Linked DNA regions of Homo sapiens: regions 1, 2 and 3 are each linked to region 4. The links come from fine-mapping of genetic effects on gene expression. A gene starts in region 4. Each other region holds a variant in brackets. All regions are shown on one strand. Distances are from middle to middle. Region 1 has its middle 130 kb from the start of CCDC185. Region 2 overlaps CAPN2 (calpain 2). Region 3 overlaps CAPN2 (calpain 2). Region 4 holds the start of CAPN2 (calpain 2).

What was found.
Region 1: its variant is fine-mapped to the expression of CAPN2 in blood mononuclear cells (TOPMed, PIP above 0.99).
Region 2: its variant is fine-mapped to the expression of CAPN2 in whole blood (TOPMed, PIP above 0.99).
Region 3: its variant is fine-mapped to the expression of CAPN2 in whole blood (TOPMed, PIP above 0.99).

The regions. Positions count from the first base shown.
Region 1 is chr1:223,519,051-223,524,198 of GRCh38, reverse strand. No RefSeq gene overlaps it. Among named protein-coding and RNA genes, the nearest start is that of CCDC185, 130 kb to the right of the region's middle. The variant C/T (reference allele first, on the strand shown) is at 3,065.
Region 2 is chr1:223,761,903-223,767,050 of GRCh38, reverse strand. CAPN2 (calpain 2) reads right to left here. Exons shown (of 21, transcript NM_001748.5): 14 at 4,800-4,865; 15 at 2,844-2,901; 16 at 620-684. Among named protein-coding and RNA genes, the nearest start is that of CAPN2, 52 kb to the right of the region's middle. The variant A/G (reference allele first, on the strand shown) is at 2,912.
Region 3 is chr1:223,754,486-223,759,633 of GRCh38, reverse strand. CAPN2 (calpain 2) reads right to left here. Exons shown (of 21, transcript NM_001748.5): 10 at 3,985-4,154; 11 at 2,254-2,265; 12 at 153-364. Among named protein-coding and RNA genes, the nearest start is that of CAPN2, 45 kb to the right of the region's middle. The variant T/G (reference allele first, on the strand shown) is at 2,844.
Region 4 is chr1:223,710,470-223,715,617 of GRCh38, reverse strand. CAPN2 (calpain 2) reads right to left here and starts at 3,079. Exons shown (of 21, transcript NM_001748.5): 1 at 2,741-3,079. The coding sequence starts at 2,977. RefSeq lists silencers at 2,613-2,732, 2,943-3,332 and enhancers at 2,442-3,393, 3,433-3,482.

The DNA of each region.
Region 1 (5,148 bases), 190 kb after region 4:
GAGGTGCTCAAGATGCGTGCCTCCCCTTATCCCCTTCCCTCAGATCTCCGGCTCTTCTTTGAGACCCTCAAATAGAGAAGAAAGCAATTGATATGTTCATTCACATGATTTTCTCATGGAACCCAAGAGGGAGGCAAAGGACAAAGCCAACTAGTGACAAGGCTGTTCATAGGATGCTGCAACCTTCGAGGGTAATGACTAGAGTTGACGGGTCCCAGACTTGGGAGATGTCACCAATGGGCCCACGGCCATGCTGCCCAACTGCAGACTGGAGCCTCCTGGATGCACTTGGGCTCCCTGGCACATGTGTCAGGGAGGAAGAGCTCATCTATATACCCAGTGCACACACAACCACTTCAGTTTATCTACAGGACTAATGAATTCTGCCAATGTGATAATCAGTAGGAATGGAGGAGTCAACCAGAGCTAATTTGAAAGAGTGCAAGGTAATTAATTTGAAATGACTTATTTAGTAAAATGGTAATGATGAGGCTAATGTTATCGCCCGAGATGACAAGTCTATTAGTTGTATGCTGCCTTTGGATGGAGCAGGGAGCAGGGCCGTTACACAGAAGTGTGGATGTCTTGAAGGACCTCCCCTTTATCTCTCCCTCCCTTGGCCCTGCCTTAACCAAAGGTTGATTGGTTTCTGCTCTGACTAGGACAGAGCCGCCATAACAGCCCACTTCCCTCACAGCCACTGCCACTGTCCACAATCCCAGGAGAGACAAGCCCATTGCATTGTCCAGGTGATGCCACAGTGGCTGGAGAAGAGCCATGGCAGCTGATGGATACCTCTCATTCAGGAGAAAGTTCTGGTCCTAGAAGAACACTGGAGATGCGCCCCTGGGACAGATCTCAGGAGAGCCTAAATATGAATACAAGACTTAGAAGGTGCCTTTGGAGACTGGGTGCAGTGGTGCATGCCTGGAATCCTAGCACTTTAGGAGGCTGAGGAGGGAGGATTGCTTGAAGCCAGGAGCTCGAGACCAGCCTGGACAACATAGCAAGATCTGCCTCTACCAAAACAAACAAACAAAACCCAAAAAACAGTGCCTTCTGTCTGGGTAGGCCTAGATTTAAGTCTCATCTGCCACCTCTCAGCTGTGCGACCCTGGGCAAACCCCTCAACCTCTGGCCTACTTCTTCACCTGTAAAGCAGAAATGGTAATACCTGCCTTCCGGCACCGCTCAGGCTCCCCTTCCCTTCTTGGCTGCAAGGGGATATCAGAGACAAAGTTACAGCCACACACAGCGAAGAATTTATGTAGCACATTTTGCTCTTTAATTTTGGTTTATGTGCCCTGTTATTTCTCTTTCTTCTTTTGCTTCTGCTTTTAATTCATGCTAAGTTGGTCTTTTATGTAGTCTCATAAGGCTTCTTAACCCATTTCTGGAATAAAGTGGAGGATAAATAAATTACAAGTTGTTGTGAGGATTAAGTGACAATTGCCAAGTGTCTAGCACTTTATGGATGCTCCTTCTGGCTCTCCCCAATGGGATTCCATTGTCGGCTTCCCTCTCTAGATGGGAAGGGCCTGTGGATGGCTGCACAGCTGTGGGGGTACCCTGTGAGGCCGGGGTGCAGGGGAGACAATGAGCAAACAGTGGAAACGGAGTCTGAGGGGGCCAGGGCCTGAGCTGAATAGATGGTCACCACGTAGTCAGATGGAAAAGGCAGAACCCAGGAGTGATGTGAAGAGCCCAGTTTAACGGGAGCTGGCGACATGGAGAGTCAAAGTGGGATGTGTGGGGAAGGGGGACAGACTGCGGCGGTTCCTGTGCTGACGTGCTGGCAACTGTGGCAGCTTCATCTGCGGTACGTGGAGTACTTAAAAGGGTGGGGGGCTCAAAGTAGGGGGGTCCGCTAGGGCCCCATTTGGTAACTACTGGGCATGGATGATCTGGGAGGTTTCTGTGTGCCCAGAAAGGATGAGAAAAGGGTGTTCTGGGGGACCCAGGGCACCAACTAAGCCCAGAGGGGCAGCCTGTCTGCTGTAGGCCAGGGAAGGACTCTCTGAGCACAGAATCCCAGGAGAGCAGCCTAATTAAAGTTTAGAAAGTGCTTCTCAGTCTCACTGTTGGACAAACAAAAAGGTGTTAGAATAGGCCTCTCGAGAAAGCACAACAAGGATAGTTAGACTGTCACAGGCCTTTGATCCTGATGCCATTCAGCAACAAGGCTCGGGTGCTTAGGACTCTGACATACCTTGGCAGAGAAACCGATTTCTGGAAGTTTGCACTTTGACTCAAGAAATAAAGGAGTATCTGAAAGGACAGAAAAGTCTTTCTTTGTCTGGGCGGAAGTTCAGTTTCCTTAAGCCTGGAAAAAATGAAGTATTAGAGGCAGCATAAATAGAGAAATTGTAGACAAAATTCCAGAAAAGTCAGGATACGACTGAGCATGGTGGCTCATGCCTGTAATCCAGGAACTTTGGGAGGCCAAGGTGGGTGGATCTCTTGAGCACAGGAGTTCGAGACTATCCTGGGCAACATGGTGAAACCCCGTCTCTACAAAAAAACAAAACAAAACAAAACAACAACAACCAAAAAACCCCACAAAAATGAACTGGATGTGGTGGTATGTGCATGTAGTCCCAGCTACTCGGGAGGCTGAAATGGGAGGATTACTTGAGCCCAGGAGGCAGAGCTTGCAGTGAGCTGAGATAGCGCCACTGCACTCCAGCCTGAGCAACAGAGCCAGACCTTGTCTCGAACAAAAATGAAAAAGAAAGAGGTCAGGATGTGTAGTGGCTAAAACTCAGGCTATGAGTCAGACAAATTTTGGATACCCATTTACTAGCCATGGGACCTTGGATGAGTTACTTAATCTCATCAACCCTCAGTTTCTTCATCTGTAAAATGGGGTAGTTAGTAGTGGCTCCTGCTGGCCTAAGTTACTGTGAGATTTGAATGAATTAATGCACATCCAGCACTGAGTTCAGGGACAAGCACTGGGCACACACTCCATAAGCATCAGTTCTTCTTGGTTTTAGTATTAAAAGCAAACATCACATACAAAAAATTTAGATTTCTTTTTCTTTTTTTTTTTTTTTTTTTGAGA[C/T]GGAGTCTGGCTCTGTCACCAGGCTGGAGTGCAGTGGCACAATCTCAGCTCACTGCAACCTCTGCCTCCCGGGTTCAAGTGATTCTCCTCCCTCAGCCTCCCGAGTAGCTGGGACTACAGGCATGTGCCACCACGCCCAGCTAATTTTTGTATTTTTAGTAGAGATGGGGTTTCACCATTTTGGCCAGGAAGGTCTCAGTCTCTTGACCTCGTGATCCGCCCCCCTCAGCCTCCCAAAGTGTTGGGATTACAGGCATGAGCCACTGCGCTCAGCCTAGAAATGTTTTTGTTCTTTAAAAATAACATTTTCTTTCTCTTTTTGACATTAGAAGGCACTTAGTCCAGAAAAATAAAACTTTCTTTGTCATGGTAATGTTGATGACATCTTCTACTCTGATTTTTTTTTTCATTTTTCTCAGAACCTGATAAAAACTAAGAGATGGTAGACTGCTGAAGAATTCAATTGCCTAGAGCTCCACTAGAAATGAAAATTTAAAACATCTTAAAGTGAATTCTATTACATTTAAAAAATATTGTGTAAGGAGGGGCTCTTTTACATCTAATTCACCAAATATAATCATTGTAAATGCAAACAAGCTAGACACAATCTATTCCTCAATTCCCTAACACCTGTAGAAGATTTTAAAAATATGACTTATGATGGGCATGGTGACTCGTGTCTGTAATCCTAGAGACTCGGGAGGCTGAGGCAGGAAGATCGCTTGAGGCTAGGAATTTGAGACCAGGCTGGGCAACATAGTAAGATCCCATCTCCATAAAAATTTAAAACGTAGCTGGGTGTGGTGGCACATGTCTGTAGTCCCAGCTTCTTGGGAGGCTGGGGTAAGAGAATTGCTTGGTTCCAGGAGGTTGAGGCTACAGTGAGCTATGATAGCACCACTACAGTCAACCTTGTGACAGAGTGAGGCCCTATCTCCAAAAAGAAAAAAAAAATACAGCTTGCATAAGGAGTAGGGGCTCATATTGGGGCCAATAGTGCTCAGTGAAGGGGAGCCTGGGCCTGAGCTCTGGTCTTCTGGGAGGTGGGGGTGCTTCACAGCAGGCTTTTGCACAAGTTCCTTCTTCTAAAGGTACACATGGAGGAAGGGGACTTCAGGGTGTCAGGCTGGATGTTGGTTCTGGGAAAGAAGGTGCTGGCCTCGCACTTGTCCCCTTCCTTGGCCCAGTGGTGGAAACAGAGAGTTGCCCTTAGGAGGGACAGTGTGGCAAAGGCACTGGGAGTGTGATGCCAAGAAGTGGAGGGCCTTCTCTCTCCCAGAGATGGCTCAATGAGGATGGAAAGGAACGGGGTGTCGTCTTGAGTTGTTGACCTCTTGAGTTGTCATGGCTTTGGGAGCACCTGGAAAGAGTAGAGTAAAGGGTCTCCCGGCTTTCTCATGGGAGACACCGGACAGAGTGAGCCACATCCACAGGGAGAAGCTGCCCTCAAGTGACTCTTGGGCAGTGGTCATCCAAAGGGACAGTGTCTAGGGTAGCAGGATGGGAAATAACTGTTTTTGGGTCCCTATGAGATATGGCCTGAGGATGGCCAGATTCGTTTTCCTTACGACTGCTTAGAAGGTAGTTACCACCTGTCCATCTTTTTTCCAGCTTCCTTTTTTTTTTTTTTTTTAATTTGGAAAAAATCCTCTACTGTAGTTTTAGTTGGGTTTAGTGAAGGAAGAATATTAGATCCATGTGTTCAATCCACTACCTTTTTTTTTTTTTGAGACGGTGACTCACTCTGTCACCCAGGTTAGGGTGCAGTGGTGCAATCATGGTTCACTGCAACCTCAACCTCCCTGGGCTCAGTTGGTCCTCCCACCTCAGCCTCCCAAGTAGCTGGAACTACTTGGGCATGCACCACCATGCCCAGCTAATTTTTTTGGTTTGTTTTTTGTAGAGATGGGGTTTCACCATGTTGCCCAGGCAGGACTCGAATTCCATGCCAACATCTACTGTTTTTTGATTTTTTTTTATGGCCATTCTTGCAGGAGTAAGGTGGTATTTCATGGTGGTTTTGATTTGCATTTCCCCGATCATTAGTGATGTTGAGCATTTTTCATATGTTTGTTGGCCATTTG
Region 2 (5,148 bases), 51 kb before region 4:
CAAAGAAGTGATGGGCATATTGTCAGGAATTTCCCGCACCAGCCCCAGGAATGGACTGGTGGGCCTACATTCTTTTTCTTTTTTTTTTTTTGGCGATGAGTCACGCTCTGTCACCCAGGCTGGAGTGCAGTGGCGCGATCTCAGCTCACTGCAACCTCCGCCTCCCAGGTTCAAGTGATTCTCCTGCCTCAGCCTCCTGAGTAGCTGGGATTACAGGTGCCCGCCACCACACCCAGCTAATTTTTGTATTTTTAGTAGAGACAAGGTTTCACCATGTTGGTCAGGCTGGTCTCGAACTCCTGACCTCGTGAGTCAGGAGGCCCACCTTGGCCTTCCAAAGTGCTGGGATTACAGGCATGAGCCACCGCCCGCCATGGGCCTGCATTCTAAGCCTTTCAGGGTAGGTGGGAGGGGGGGTGTAGCATTTGCTTTCCCTCATCAGAGGGTTCTCGCATTTCCCTAGTAAGGGAGGTCAGCGCTGCTGACTGTCCGACAGCAACTCAGCAAGTTGGGAACAACTGGCTATTTTGAAAAGGGAGAAGGCCATGTGTTTGAATCTTTCTGGAGTGAGATTTTAAACTCCCCCAGTCTCTATTCCCTGGAGCACATTAAAGGATACATCTAGCATGTCAACCATAATTTTGCATGTCTCGATGCTGAAGCCATCTGACTTGATATCTTGGCCTAAAAGACAAAATCAGTGTGACAGGAAAAATCTCTGAGCGGTGATGTCCAACTGAACTTTCCACAATCATGGAGATATTCTTTATCTGTGCCCTTCACATACAGAAGCCACTTCCATTATATTAAATAGCCACATGTGGCTAGTGACTACCAGACTGGGACAGTGCAGATGATGTCCACATTGTCCTGATGTCTCTGTATATTTGCCGTGGGCAAACAGGGCTTTAAAAAGTGCTTTTTGAACAAATAAATAACAGAATGATCAATGGTTGGGCCTTAGGTGCCCACAGGATATAAAGTCACCTGTAGTTGTTGGGCAGGGAAAAAGAAAACAGAGAGCAGGTGTGTTAATTCTAGGCTATGACCCGTGAGAGAAAGAGGTTTACTTGAACTGTCCATCTGCAGACATTTATGGACTGTGTCCCCAGCTGACTGAGAAACCTGAGGAACTGGGATCGATCCACGAGCTATTTGTGCTGCACTAAGTGAGTCCTGTCCACTTGGTGTTTGGCAGGTGGCATGAGACCCTCCCTAGTCACCAATGTGAACCTGGCTCCCCACAGACTTCACGAAAAGCCCAGCCTTTTTGTTATGTCCCCGAAAGAGGTTAGAGCCTGACCTGCCTCAAAGCTGCCACTCTGGGCACCAACCCCTTAGATGGTCATAAGGCTCTGGCCCAGCAGCTGTGCATGCAGACTCTGGTGTGGAGCCCTCCAGAAGGCTGGAGTCAGCAGGCAGCTAGGGGTAGGGTAGTAAGCTCAGAGGCACGCGCGGAGCGAATGCTGCTCCCCCAGCAAGGAGCGGGCTGAATCCAGGCAAGGCCCGCTTCTTCCCCACCTCCCAGCCCCACCCTCCATCTGTGCAGAAACAATGAGGCTTTAGTCTCCTCAGCTCATGAGGACTGCATATCTGAAGAGCTCTGTGACCTCACTTGTGCCTGGTGGCCTCCAGGGTAAACACAATCTTCTTGCCTTCCCTGAAAATTAGAGGAGGGCGGGTGCAGACTGGGTCTCCTCTGGGGAGGCCCTGCACTGGACTGACCGTAACCTGACTGGCCCAGCCCTCTTGGTTCACACTGGGAGGGAAGACCCAGCTGGCCCTGGACTCTTCTTTGGCTCTGAAAGGCAGATTTATTTTATCTCATGGAGTTAGGCTAGAGGCCATCTTGTCAGAGGGAATGATGTCCCTTGAAGTCCATGAGGCTTCTCGAGATGATCCCTAGGGCTGGTATGCAGCAAACAACCATGACTGCATTTGTCTCTGATGCAGATTCCTAACTTCTGATATGTTCAAAACTCTGCTTCCTGGATTGCCAGTTGCTCTCTTAACAAATGCAGCGTGATTCTTTTGATAATTTGAGGGGAAAAAATGTCTCTGTGTTGTGTTTCCCGCTCCTCCCTGCTGGTGATCCACAGTAAGGGGTTGAACAATCAATCCTCTGACATTTTTTTGCTTAAGAAATAGTTAGTTACAAGATGTGGCCGGGCACGGTGGCTCACACCTGTAATCCCAGCACTTTGGGAGGCCGAGGTGGGCAGATCACTTGAGGCCAGGGGTTCAAGACCAGCCTGGCCAACATGGAGAAACCCCATCTCTAGGAAAATACAAAAATTAGCTGGATGTGGTAGTGCATGCCTGTAATCCCAGCATTTTGGGAGGCCAAGGCAGGTGGATCACTTGAGGTCAGGAGTTCAAGACCAGCCTGGCCAATATGGTGAAACCCTGTCTTTACTAAAAATACAAAAGTCAGCTGGCTGTGGTGGCACTTGCCTGTGATTCCAGCTACTTGGGAGGCTGAGGCAGGAGAATCGCTTGAATTTGGGAGGTAGAGATTGCAGTGAGCTGAGATTGTGCCACTTTACTCCAGCCTGGGCGACAGAGTGAGACTCTGTCTCAAAAATAAAATAAAATAAATTAAAAAAATAGATCACACAAAGCTAGTATGTAGTGGAAACCTGGATTTGATCTTTGATCTGTGGATGCTACAAACACTTGTTCTTTTTCATCACATCATACAAATCCTTCATCCACTTCTTGGAGGGGATGGAGGGTGGTGGTTTAGTCACAGCAGCCAGACATGGAGGGGGAAAGATTTCCATGTTCCCTCCCATCCACAGGGGAAAGAGCAGGATGAGGTTTTGCAATGAGGGGATACTCACGCTTTGCTAGAACCCTTCTCAGGATGGTCTGCAGCTCAAAGGCAGAGATCTCCGCATCCTGTGGACAC[A/G]TAACCAGAGCATAGTTATTGGCCCCCCGTGGGAGCTGGATGAGCACAGGGCAGGACACCAGTGCATTAGGTAGGCCTGCGGTGGGGCCTATGAATGTGCATTTCTAACAAGCCCCCGAGCCATGTTGGGGCTGCTGTCCCCAGACCACACTTTGAGTAGTACTGCCCCATTCTGGATTTTAGATACAGTGTTTTTGGTTTGGTTCTTTTTAGAACACCCAGGCTGGGCTGGACTGCAGTGGAATGATCCTAGCTCACTGAAACCTCAAACTCCTAGGCTCAAACGATCCTCCAGCCTCAGCCTCCCAAAGTGCTGGGATTACAGGTGTGAGCCACTGTGCCCAGCCTAGATACGGTGTTTTAATGTACGGATGCAGTAGGGAGAGTTCACTCACCATTTCTTTGCTGTAGAGAATATAAATAATAAATACTCCCCTCTACCCATGTTTGTGGTCTTTCTTAATTCTCTTATACCATTCCTCTTATCTGGCATGTTTTCTTCATTCTTTAAAACTCAAAGCTCAGACTTCCTGTAAAACTGGTGAAAACCAGCTGTCTCCAAGACCTAGCCGGCCCTCCTCTATGCCCATCATGCCAGGGCCCCTCATGGGCTCAGATGTCTCTATCCACTTACACATATTTGTGTAACTCATGGATAAACTCCTTTGTTTAAAACCAAGATTGATTGCAGTCATGTTTGCCTTTTGGGGTGTGTATGTGTGGGATTCAATCAGAGGGGAAAGAAGACTCTCATGGCCCCTTTCCTTGGGAATCTGGGAGGGAGCAGAGGGTGAGAGGCCGGTGGAGGCGCAGAGCAGACGATGCCTGGCTTAGTACTTTGATGGGTCTTTAGGTCAGCGAAGGGAGTACCAGATGAGCTCAATGATTGGAAAGTTCCTCCACATAGTGAAGAAAGAGGACTTTTTTTTTTTTTTTGGAGTTGTTGGGAAGAAAGAGGGCTAAATAACTTTGTGATGGGACTAAATGGCTGAGGGATTTTTTTAAGAACAGGGAAGTGGCCAGGTATGGTGGCTCACACCCGTAATTCCAGCACTTTGGGAGGCTGAGGTGGGAGGACTGCTTGAGCTCAGGGGTTTAAGACCAGCCTGGACAACAAAGTGAGACCCTGTCTCTAAAAAAAATTTAAAAATTAGCTGGGCATGGTGGTATGCATCTGTAATCCCAACACTTTGGCAGACCAAGGTTGGAGGATTGTTGAGCCCAGGAGTTCCAGAGCAGCCTGGGCAACATGGCAAAACTCCATCTCTACAAAAATAAAAATAAAATAAAAATTAGCTAGACATGGTGGTGTGCACCTATAGTCCCAGCTACTTGGGAGACTAAGGTGGCAAGATCTCTTGAGCCCAGGAAGTGGAGGCTGCAGTGAGCTATGATCATGCCACTGCACTCCAGCCTGGGTGACAGAGAGAGACCCTGTCTCTAAAAAGAAAAAAAGAAAAAAGAAAAGAGAACAGAAAAGCCTAATTCAAACACTCTGTTGCAGGTGGCCTGCATTCTTGAGACTTGAAACCCTTCCATCTCTCCAAATCCTTTGTGGAAATCAAGGATAAGGGGCCAAGTTTCATGCCTCAATTGGTGTAGAACAGAGAAAATAAAACAGTCACAAGGTGAGCCCAGGAATCCTAAGGAAGGAGGAACACAGAGTCAGGGCTGACCATGCAAATGGAAGCCCCCGGCAGCATGCGGAGGTCTTAGGGAGGACACACGCAAGAGGGCTGAGCTGGAACCCAAGTGCCATTTGCAATTTCTCTTTGCTTTTGTTCAGTTTGTTTCCTCTCCCCTTTAAACTAAAGTCCCCTTGGGGACACACACTGTCTCTTCCTTTGCATCAACCAGAGTGCATAACATCGTTTTTGGGAACATTTACCTCTCCTGCCAACTGGGCAAACAGTCTCCTGAATCCATCATCAATGTCATCCTCGCTGATGTCGAACTGGAAGGTGAGGCAGAGACATGAGAATGCATCAGAGCGAGGCATGACACCAAGTGTCTGCCCGCCCTTCCATGGCAGCCACCTCCCACTCCCCTTCTCTACCCCTCCCTGGGGCCCAAATTCTACGGTGATTTGGGTTAAGATCAGGTATAGTGTGAAGAATTAATATAAGGTTTTTTTTTTCTAATTAAAACACAAGAAGGAATGTAAATTATGTGGGAAGGAGTAATATTCTAATTTCTCACAGAGGTATCTTCTCTAGCATCCAATTAAAATGGCCTTT
Region 3 (5,148 bases), 44 kb before region 4:
ATCAAATCCCCACACTAGTCCTTCGAGGTGGGCAGGTGTTACAGAAAAAGTAACTGACATTCAGAGGATGAAAGAGCCCTCTAGGGGCCGAGGAACAGACCAGTGGGGAGGGACAGGGAAGGGTGGGGAGAGGAAGGGACCAAACCGCCTACTGGTAGTCAGCTTTCTTTTCAGAAAAGACCCGGATGCAGAAATCCCCATCCTTGTTGGGTTCGAAGGTGGAAGGCACGAGAATGTACTCTCCTGGCGGCAGCTTGAAGCGGTTGAGCACCTCCCGGAGGTTGATGAAGGTGTCTGAGCGCTCCCTGGCGCGATTCGTCAGGAAGAAGTTTTTGCTGAGGTGGATGTTGGTCTGCCCACTTAACTGAGGAATAAATAGAGAAACATGGGGGTAGATGAGGGGAAGCCTCCAGGCAAGTATCATTTTCATTCACTGAGATAAAAGCAGTTGGGTAGTGTGGTGGCTCAGTCCTGCTGTCCTGGTGTATAAGGAGGCGAGGCCAGGCGTCAGAAACCAGCCTGGGCAACACAGGAAGCCCTCATCTATATAACGACGACAACAACAACAAAACAACAAAATTTTTTTAAAAAAATAGCAGTACAGTGACAATGCCTGGGTCATTTTAGATAAAAAGCAAACTTTTGTTAGGTGTGGTGGCTCACGCCTGTAATACCAGCACTTTGGGAGGCTGTGAGAGGATTGCTCGAGGCCAGGAGTTTGAGACCAGCCTGGGCAATGTAGTGAGACCCCTGTCTCTGCAAAAAATAAAAATATTAGCCAGGGGTGGCGGCAAGCGCCTGTAGTCTCAGCTACTCAGGAGGCTGAGGTAGGAGGCTCACGTGAGTCTGAGAGTTCAAGGACGGCAGTGAGCTATGATCACACCACTGTACTCTAGCCTGGGTGACAGAATGAGACCTTGTCTTAAAAAAAAAAAAAACAAAAAGCAAACTTTCTACCAAAAAACACAAATGCCTGCTGAGGAACTCGGAAGCACATGCCCACAGGGGTTTCACATCCATTCAGCTCCGCCTGCAGAGATGCCCAGTCTTTCCACAGTGTTCCCAGCCTTCCTCTAAGAGACTCTCAGGCAGGAACAGCGTCCACATGGCAGGAACCTGGCTCGGTTCTACGTGGTGTATGATGCACTATAAAAGCAAAGACAGGACTGGGGGCAGGAGAAAGACAACCCAGCTTCTAAACCAAGCATGATCCACCGGACCAAGGCTGGAGCAGCATCTAAAAGAGCCCGATGTGCTACCGGTTGCACTGCCTTGCTGTGAAAGAAATGTACTACAGGTGGGTCAAAGTGCCCCGTGTGTCTACTTTAATAATCGTGACCTTGGACCAGGCATCCCATCTGCTTCAGCAAGCGGTGACTGTGGGCCCAAATGCTCTCGCAAAATTTAAGTCATTCCACGGTAGTGCAGTGAGGTGGATGGTTGACCAGTTTTACTGAAAAATAAACTGAAATGCAGCCAGGCACGGTGGCTACACCTGTAATCCTAGCACTTTGGGAGGCTGAAGGGGGTGGATCACCTGAGGTCAGGAGTTCAAGACCAGCCTGGCCACCATGGTGAAACCCCGTCTCTACTAAAAATACAAAAATTGGCCTGGCATCCTGGTGCGTGCCTGTAGTCCCAGCTACTGGGGAGGCTGAAGCAGGAGAATCACTTGAACCCAGGAGGTAGAGGTTGCAGTGAGTCGAGATCATGCCACTGCACTTCATCCTGGGTGAAAGAGCGAGACAAAAAACAAACAAACAAACCAAAAATCAAAAAAAAAAAAAACAAAACCCTGAAATGCAGAGAGGAGCTGTAACGTGTCCAAGGTCACACAGCCTGGGAATTGGGTCCTGGTCTCCTCTGTGCTCCCGCGTTGTCTTCTAGTACAGTCTGCAGGGTTCACCTTTTCCCTGACTCAGTCTTCTCCTAAGAGTGACAAAGAACTTTGTGAAAAGCCTCCTGCAGTCTCAGGATCATGGATTTTCTGCCCAGAACCAAACCCTGTATGGGCTCTGCCAGGTCACAGGGAGGCAGCGGGTCCCACAAGGACTTTCCAGAAACCTTGCCCAGAGCTTAGACCAGTGGGATCTAGAGCCTGGGCAACTTCAGCAGGGCCCCAGGGGTGGCCAGGACTCATCCTTCATGACCACCAGCCCCTGCCCGGGCTTCACGACGCTCCCTGAGCTCCAGCAGTCTAAGCCTCTCGCTTTTTTGGTGACCTGAGCACCCCGGGACATGGGCCAGACGTACCTCCTCTGGAACCTGCAAAATAAAGGAGATGCAATTCAGATGCCGGAAAAGCAGTGTAAGAAAATGCATCACTGTGCTCTTCTCTTCCGCTGCCCCCGTTTTCTCTGTAGCATTAGCAATATCAACTAATTCAACCGAGTAACTGTTTTCCAAGGAACTCAAAGCCTCTCCAACACTGAAGAAAATCCTCTTATGTTGATAAGCCCTCACCTCCCTTCCTAACTTAGAGTATAAATCTCAGGCATGGAGATGTGAAGAGACTTGTCTAAGGTGGCAAAGCCCATATCGGCCTCCCACGCAGGGAAAGAGGGCCAGGCGGGCCCTGTTGGAGGAGGCAGCAGGCGAGGTGAAATACACCTGGGGCTAGGAGCCAGCAGTGCCGGCCTCTGTCAGCCAGGTCCAGTGGTCCGGTCTGCATTTCCTTGAGCAAGTCCCCTCTCCTCTCTGGCCTCAGTTTTCTTGTCTCAAAAATAGGACCCAGTGATCCCCAAGGTCCGTCCCAACTCTGAAAGCCCGTGGCTGCATTTCCAAGCCCATAAGCCGGTGGGAGGGAAGCTGTGTATCACAATTCCATTTGCATTGTCCTTGGA[T/G]CGATTCTGTCCCAGATCCGAAGTCCTCAGCTCCTGTTTCAGAGACGGAGGGGTTTAGGCCTATGTGCATTTTTACAACTGATGGTATTTGCCCAGCTGCCTTTCTCAGGTGGGTGAGCAGGTAGAAGTCAGTGTTCCATGGGTGGCAACGTTGCCAGTGGTGAGCACAGAGCCTCCTCTCCTGACACCTCGTCTGGATTCTCCCAGGGGTGTGCTGGGAAACTGGCTCTTGGGAGAGGGTGGAAGCTCTGATTTGTACTATTTGCCACTTTCCATGGTGTAAACAGGTCCCTGCCAGGGCCATTTTTCAGGCTGCTGAAGGACCTCAGCAGACATGGGTCAGAGAAAAGAGATGGGCTTTGGGAGCCGGGAGGAGCCAGCTCCAGCCCATCAAACCGAAATGCATCCCCAGTCAGTGCCCTAAAGCCTTCCTTTCATCCCTCTCCTCGCATGGCTACCTGCAGCCCACGAAAGCTCTTTCTTGTTTTGCAGAAGGGAGTGGGGAGAGCCCAGGGGCCCAGCGTGTTGGGTGAGTTCTCAGTGCCCCAGCCCCAGCCTGAGGGCGGAGAGGAGACTGCAATGCGGCTGCCCTCTGGCTGTGGCTCAGAGTGAAAGGAAAACACGCATACAGCAGGAGTCTGTGTAGGGATCTGGGCTCCAGCCATCAGAGCCCTGGGGGGAGCATCATGACCAATGTTCCCCTGTCCCCAAGCTCTCCACCATCCAGGCCAATGACTTTGCCGAGCTCTGAGCAGCTGCACCCATGGACTCAGTCCTGCCCTCACAGTATTGCCTGATGTGGCCCAGTATATTCTGTTCTTTGAAGATGGGTAGGCTGACCAGAATGCCAGGCCTGGAGGATGTGAGAAGGGATGTGGAGGCCATTTGAGAGTGGAACTCCCTGCAGGCTGGCTGTGGGGGGCCCGTGAAGGGCTTAGAAGGCCCCACAACCCAGAGCCACTGCAGGGGCCTCCCTACGGGGGCTACTCCTGAGCCTGGCCAGGCTGGTAGTTTTGTTTTTCCTTGGCCAAGCTCCCGGTCTGGGATCCCATCCCCAGTTCTGCCTCTGGGGTCAGCTTTCCATGCAGGGGCTGAGATGAACACATGGGGAAGGGAGGGCAGGAGCCCCTGCGCTCTGCACCTCATAGATGCCAAAGCCGATGGTGTGCATGTCCTCGCCCATCTTCCTCTGCCGCCGTCGGTGCTTCTGAATGAGCCCCACCAGGAAGGTGCAGCCGCTCTCCCCATCCTCCTCGTCCTCATCCTCCTCCTCCAGCTTGATCAGGTACTGAGGGTTCATCCAGAATGTGTCTGCAGCCAGAAAGGGGCAGAGGAGCCCAGCCCTGAGCAGGAATGCATGGGGGTGGGGGGTGGCCCTGGTCTCAGGCTTGGAGGCTTCTGAGAGGGATGGAGATAAAGGGAGATGGTGGGAGGTGGTGGGAGATGGTAAGAGGTGGTGGGGGATGGTGGGAGATGGCAGAGTATGGCAGAAGATGGTGGGAGACAGCGGGAGATGTCAGAAAATGGCGGGAGATGGTGGGAGTTGGCAAGAGGCGGTGGGAGGCTGTGGGAGACAGTGGGAGATGGTGGGAGATGGCAGAGGATGGCAGAAGATGGTCAGAGACGGCAGGCGATGTTGGGAGAGGCTAGGAGGTGGGAGACACCAGGGTTGGAGTGTGGACTGCAGGCTTTGTTAGGCTGGAGACGGGTGACGGTAGCTGTGGAGAGAGGATGACCTGCACTTGTCTGAATCTAACAGGAACCTAAATTAGAAACTTTCTCTTGCAGTTCTCTCTCTGGCTCCAGGCTGGCTTGTCTTGGGGACTGGTCTGTCACTCTGGAACGCAGGGTGGTTAGAGCTGTGGCTTCCCCTCATGGTACCTTCTCTTCACTGGGCTCTGATGGGGAGCCTGGGGCGGGGCTCGGCTGGCCTGGGGGACTCCGGGATCTGCTCCCTGCACTTGCCGGTCGCCGCCCCCTCGGTGAGCCCGGAGGCCAAGAACATCCTGTGTATAATTCCAGACTCTTTCTTGTTCTGCGTCCCTTGTCCTCTCAGGCCTATTCCCTTGCCCTGCTCCTGATGTCTCTGCCCTCTTTACTTCCAAAACCTATTTATTTAAAAAATCTAAGATTCATTCATGTTTAAGGGGAATTATGCTAATTGCCTTTCCATACCTAATGGGATAAAACCCTAACTGTGAAATTACAGGCACCATCTTGTGTAGGGGTTGGCAGCTATGGCTCCGAAGGCCGCTGCCTGTTTTTGTAAATAACGTTTTATTGGAACGTAGCCACGGCCATTCGC
Region 4 (5,148 bases):
TGGACTTACTGCTTTAATCCCCGCTCCAGGCACTGGAGCCACTCTTGCCAGTGTTGTGAAATCCTCTCTCCGAGGAAGAGCAGCTCCTCCTGCTGCAAGGCTAACCTGCTCCCCTCCCCTGCCCACAACCCGTATTCTCACTTCCTCAGGGATCCTGTTTCACTGCCCCCTCCCTGCCTTTATCTTTAATCCCTTCTTCCTGGTGATTCAACATATGACACATTCAAGTTGTTCTCATATGAAAAAAACACAGGCTCTCAAAGTCCAGGTCCTACTCTACCTATCAGTTCTCCTCTCTTCCCGGGGGTCCTTCTTAAATAAGTTGATCATGTTCTTAATTTCCAGTTCCTTTACTCTGGAGTCTACAACAATCTGGCTTCTACTCTCACCTTTCCATTGAAATTGCTCTGCTAAACTCACCAATGACTTGCTAGTGTTCAAATCCAGCGGAAACAACTGTGCTCCCCTTGCCTGACCTCAGCAGCATTTGAGAAGGTAGGAAGGAGGCAGAGAGCGCAGCCATAAGGGGTAGGCTCAACATGCACAGACTACACACAGTCCTGGATCTATGCCCTATATCCACTTGACTCTGAGCAAGTATTTAACCTTCCCAAGCCTCAATTTCTTCAACTGGCAAATGGGGATCGTAAAAGTCACACTCTTCCTTAGTTGTGCAGTGCACAGCCCGCCTGCCCTAAGCAGTGGCGCTAGATCATCTCTAGACCTCTACATCCTCATCTGGAAGTCCCACAGGCATTTCCAACTGTTGGGGGACCTGTCTCTGTCCCCTCACTAGCCTCAGAAGTAAGTCTTCAGAAGCAGAAACCATATGCATTGTGCCCAGCATATAGTAGGTATTCGAGAAATGCTTACTGAATGAATGAAAGAATAAGTGAATGAGTATGTGAACTCACTATGTAAACTGTAAAGTGCCATGCAAATGTAAAGTGAACACATTCTCTTGGTTTGTGTTTCACTTTTTTTTTTTTTTTTTTTACTTTTTTATAGAGACAAGTCTTACTGTGTTGCCCAGGCTGGTCTTGAACTCCTGGCTCAAGCGATCCTCCCACCTTGGCCTCCCATAGTGCTGGGATTACAGGTGTGAGGCACTGAGTCAGGTCAGCGTATCACTTTCACAACCATAATTTCATTTGAGGCACATTACAATCCTGCATCCATATTCTACAAACAGTCACTTCTTTTGTGTTCACTGGTGTATCTCCTGAGCTCTCAGGACAGTGCCTGGCATGTAACAGGTGCTCAATCAGTGTTGTCAAATGAGTGAGTAAATGAATGAATGAATGAATGAATGAATACTGTGAAAGGCATGGTTATGTGTCAGGCACTGGGGATATACTGGTAAATAATATACACATGATTCCTGCAGTTCAGTAGGAAGAACAAATACATGTGATTATATTCTAAACTGTGACAATGCTATGAAGGAAATGAGTGGGGTGACAGAGAAAAACAAGGTGGGGAGGTGGCTGCTAAGAAGGGTCAGAAAAGACCTCTTTAGGAAGGGAACATGTGACTAAGTTGGGAAGAATGAGAGTGAGCCACACTCCAGGTAACAGCGTGCCTTGCTGGTGAGAAGGCCTCATGCAGGAAAGAACCGGCTCTTTGAGAGACTGAAAGGAGGCCATGACGGCAGGGCCTAGTGGGCCACAAAAGAGAGAAAATATTTAGGCAGCATGTTTTCTTTTAGATGAAGACATGGAGGCACAGAGAGGTTAAATGGCTCGTTCAAGGTCACCAGCAGGTTAGCAAGAAGAAGAACCCAAGTGCTCTGAGTCTGGGCTAGGGCGCTTCCTGCAGCCCTTGCTACCTATGGGCTGGATTTAGGGTAACAGAAGGTGACCTGGGAGGCTGCTGGGTGTGGAAGCAGAGCTGGAAGCCTTGTTCTCACAACAGGAATCTAGAAGTTGGACTTCAGGGCAGGCTTTCCTAGGCGTGGTAGGGGAAGCCTGGGGAAGTGTCCCAAAGGAGGAGGAGCCTCAGGGGTTCCCCAAGAAACAGAATGGACAAGTAGATTGGGGAGCACAAGTTGTCCCAGGGCCGGGAGGTCAGAGACCCTGGGGGACGGGATAAGGGGGTCTGGAGGGCTCCCGGAGGTTTCCCGGGTGATTCCCGCCAGGGAAACCATGAGACACCTCCGTGTCCTGGGTTAATTACCAGTGTCAATGTTATGAGGAGGTATCGCTGGCTCCCCTTTGGAAAAATAAATCTAACCCCAGGGCTGCAGGAGACTATCCTTAGTCACAAAATGACCAGGCTATGGCCTGTCCCCCTCCATGAACAGACAGAACCCCAGTTGGAGACGGACTTTGTCTGGTAGATGCTGCCTCTCACCGTCCCTTCCCTGCAGACCCGATTCCCCTTCCCTTCCAGCTCCCCGCTAGAGTCCAATCAAAGTTTCACCCCGGCCTCCTGCATCACCCTGAGTTTTTGTGAAGTCCTAAAGTGGCCTGCTAGTGGGATCTGAGGGCAGTGATTCGCCTCGACCCGCCCAGGAAAGCGTGGTGGGTGGAAGAGAGGGAAGGCCCCGGGAGTCCCCCCACGCTCGAACAGAGTCCCGGGCTCTGGCGGCGCGGAGGTGTCGCAGGACTGCGAGGTCCTGGCTTGCGGCTTCCCCACTGCAGCACCCGGGCTGCCCCCCGCCCCAGCGCGCCGCGGGCCGGCCTGCACCCCGCCCTGCCCGGCACCCCGCCCTGCCCGCGTCCTGCCGCGCGCTTCCTACCGTGGGGCGCTTCCACTCGATGCCCCGGGTTTTGCTGGAGTAGGGCCCCAACTCCTTGAAGCCCAGGGCCGAGGGGATGGCCGGGAAGGACGGGTCCTGGAAGAGCGTCCCGGCCTCCAGGCACTCGTTCCGCAGCGCCTCGTAGTCCTGGTTGAGGTACTTGATGGCCCTGTCGTGGGAGCCCAGCCCCTCGGCCGCCTCCCGGTCCTTCGCCAGCTTGGCCGCGATGCCCGCCATGCTGCGGTCCCGGCGGCCGTACTGCGCAGAGAAAGGTCGGGGCGACTCCGCGCTGCGCTCGGCTGGGGCGCGGCCAGGGCCCGGCGCGCTGCTGCGGCCACTGCGGGCGCCGCCGCTGCGAGCGATGATTCACCGGAGGGAAGCGGCCCGGCCCGCGGGGTGTGGCCTCAGCCGCTCCCGGCCTGCTGGGCTCCCGGCCCGGGACCAGGCCATCCTGCGGCCTGCCGAGCGCCGGGAACGCCGCGACCCGGGGCCGGTGCTGCCATCTGCGGACAGCTCCCGGGATGGCGCGGCCCGGCGCCGGGGAGGCTCGCGAATCGCGGTCCAGAGTTGGGGCTCCCACCGGAACCCGAGGCCACCTTTGCAGCCCATAGGGAAGAAGGCTAGGATAGTTGTGGCCGTCCGGAAAACACCCGGGGAGTTAGCAGAGGGTCAGGTAGTGAAGTCGAGGAAACTAAACCAGCTGCCCTGAACTTTGTGCCAAACAGCGTCTTAACGGCTCTGCATACATCATCTCATTTAATCCTCCCAGCGACTCTGAAGAAGGCGCTGATATTGTCCCCATTTTACAGATGAGAAAACTGAGCCTCGGAGACGCTAAATGACGTCCCCAATGTGGCACAACAGTCACAGGCAGAACAGGGACTCTAAGCCACCGGAGGCCTATTGCAATCACAATGCTGCAATTACTACTGCTCAGCTGTTTATTTGATTATAGATAGGGTTGTCAGATTTGGCCAATAAGGCTGGGTGCGGTAGTTCACACCTGTAATCCCAACACTTTGGGAGGCCGGAGGCAGGCGGATCACCTGGGGTCAGGAGTTCGAGACCAGCCTGGTCAACATGGTGAAATTCCGTCTCTACTAAAAATACGTCGTGGCAGGCACCTGTGATCTCAGTTACTCGGGAGGCTGAGACAGGAGAAACGCTTGAACCCAGGAGGGAGAAGTTGCAGTGAGACGAGATCGCGCCACTGCGCTCCAGCCTGGGTGACAAAGCGAAACTCCATATCAAAAATAAAATAAAATAAAATGATTTGGCCAATAAAACAACAACCCTCCCAAATGTTTAATTTGAATTTCAGATAAACAACAGATACTTTTAAAGTATATGTAGGGCCCAAATATTGCATGGGCATACATACTTATTCTAAAAGAAAATATGATTCATTGTTTACCTGAAACTCATATTTAACTGGCAGGATTAGTTGGGTTACTATAGGGAGAGAGCATTTAGAATACTGCCTGTGTTGGCTACTGTGACCACTCTGTTGTGGAGCTAGGGTGTGATTCTCATCTCACACACAGAGACATGGGTGCGTGCCAAGAAATGCAGATGGGCAGAAATTACCTCCTCTTCTTCTCTACAGTAGTAGGGAAGAATTTGGGTTTCACTGGAAAACTGTGCATGGTCTACAGCAGTGGTTCTCAACTGGGGGCAGTTTTGTCCCCTACCCACCCCAGGAGACATTTGGGAATGTCTGGAGATAGTTTTTATGGTCACAGCTAGGAGATGAGGTGCTACTGGCCTTTACTAAGTAGAAGCCAGGGATGCCGCTGAACATCTTCCAATGTCCAAGATAGCTCTTGTGAACCCAGAAAATCTGAAACAGGTCTCATTTAATTTAGAAAGTTTCTTTTGCCATGGTTGAAGATGCACACCTGTGACACAGGAAGTCCTGAGGACATGTGCCCGAGGTGGTTGGGGTGCAGCTTGGTTTTATACATGTTAGGGAGGCAAGAGCCATCAGTCAAGTACATTTAAGAAATACATTGGTTTGGTTCAGAAAGGCGGGACAACTCAAAGTGGCGGGGGGTGGTGGGTGGGTAGTGGGGGTGGCTTCCAGGATATAGGTAAATATTTAAACATTTTCTGGTTGACAATTGGTTGAGTTTGTCTAAAGGCCCAGGATCAATAGAAAGGAATGTTTGGGTTGCGATAAGAGGTTGTGGAGACAAAAGTTTTATCACATAGATGAAGCTTTTAGCTAGCAGGCTTCAGAGTGAACAGGCAGTAAAATGTTTCTTATCAGACCTAAACTCTGGTTGATGTTCACGCTGGAGAGGTATAATGAAGCATGTCCGACCTTGCCTTTCCTTCATGGCCTGAAAATTTCAGGTTAAAATTTTAAGAGCCTCGGCTAAGGAGGAACCATCCATTTAGATGGTTGG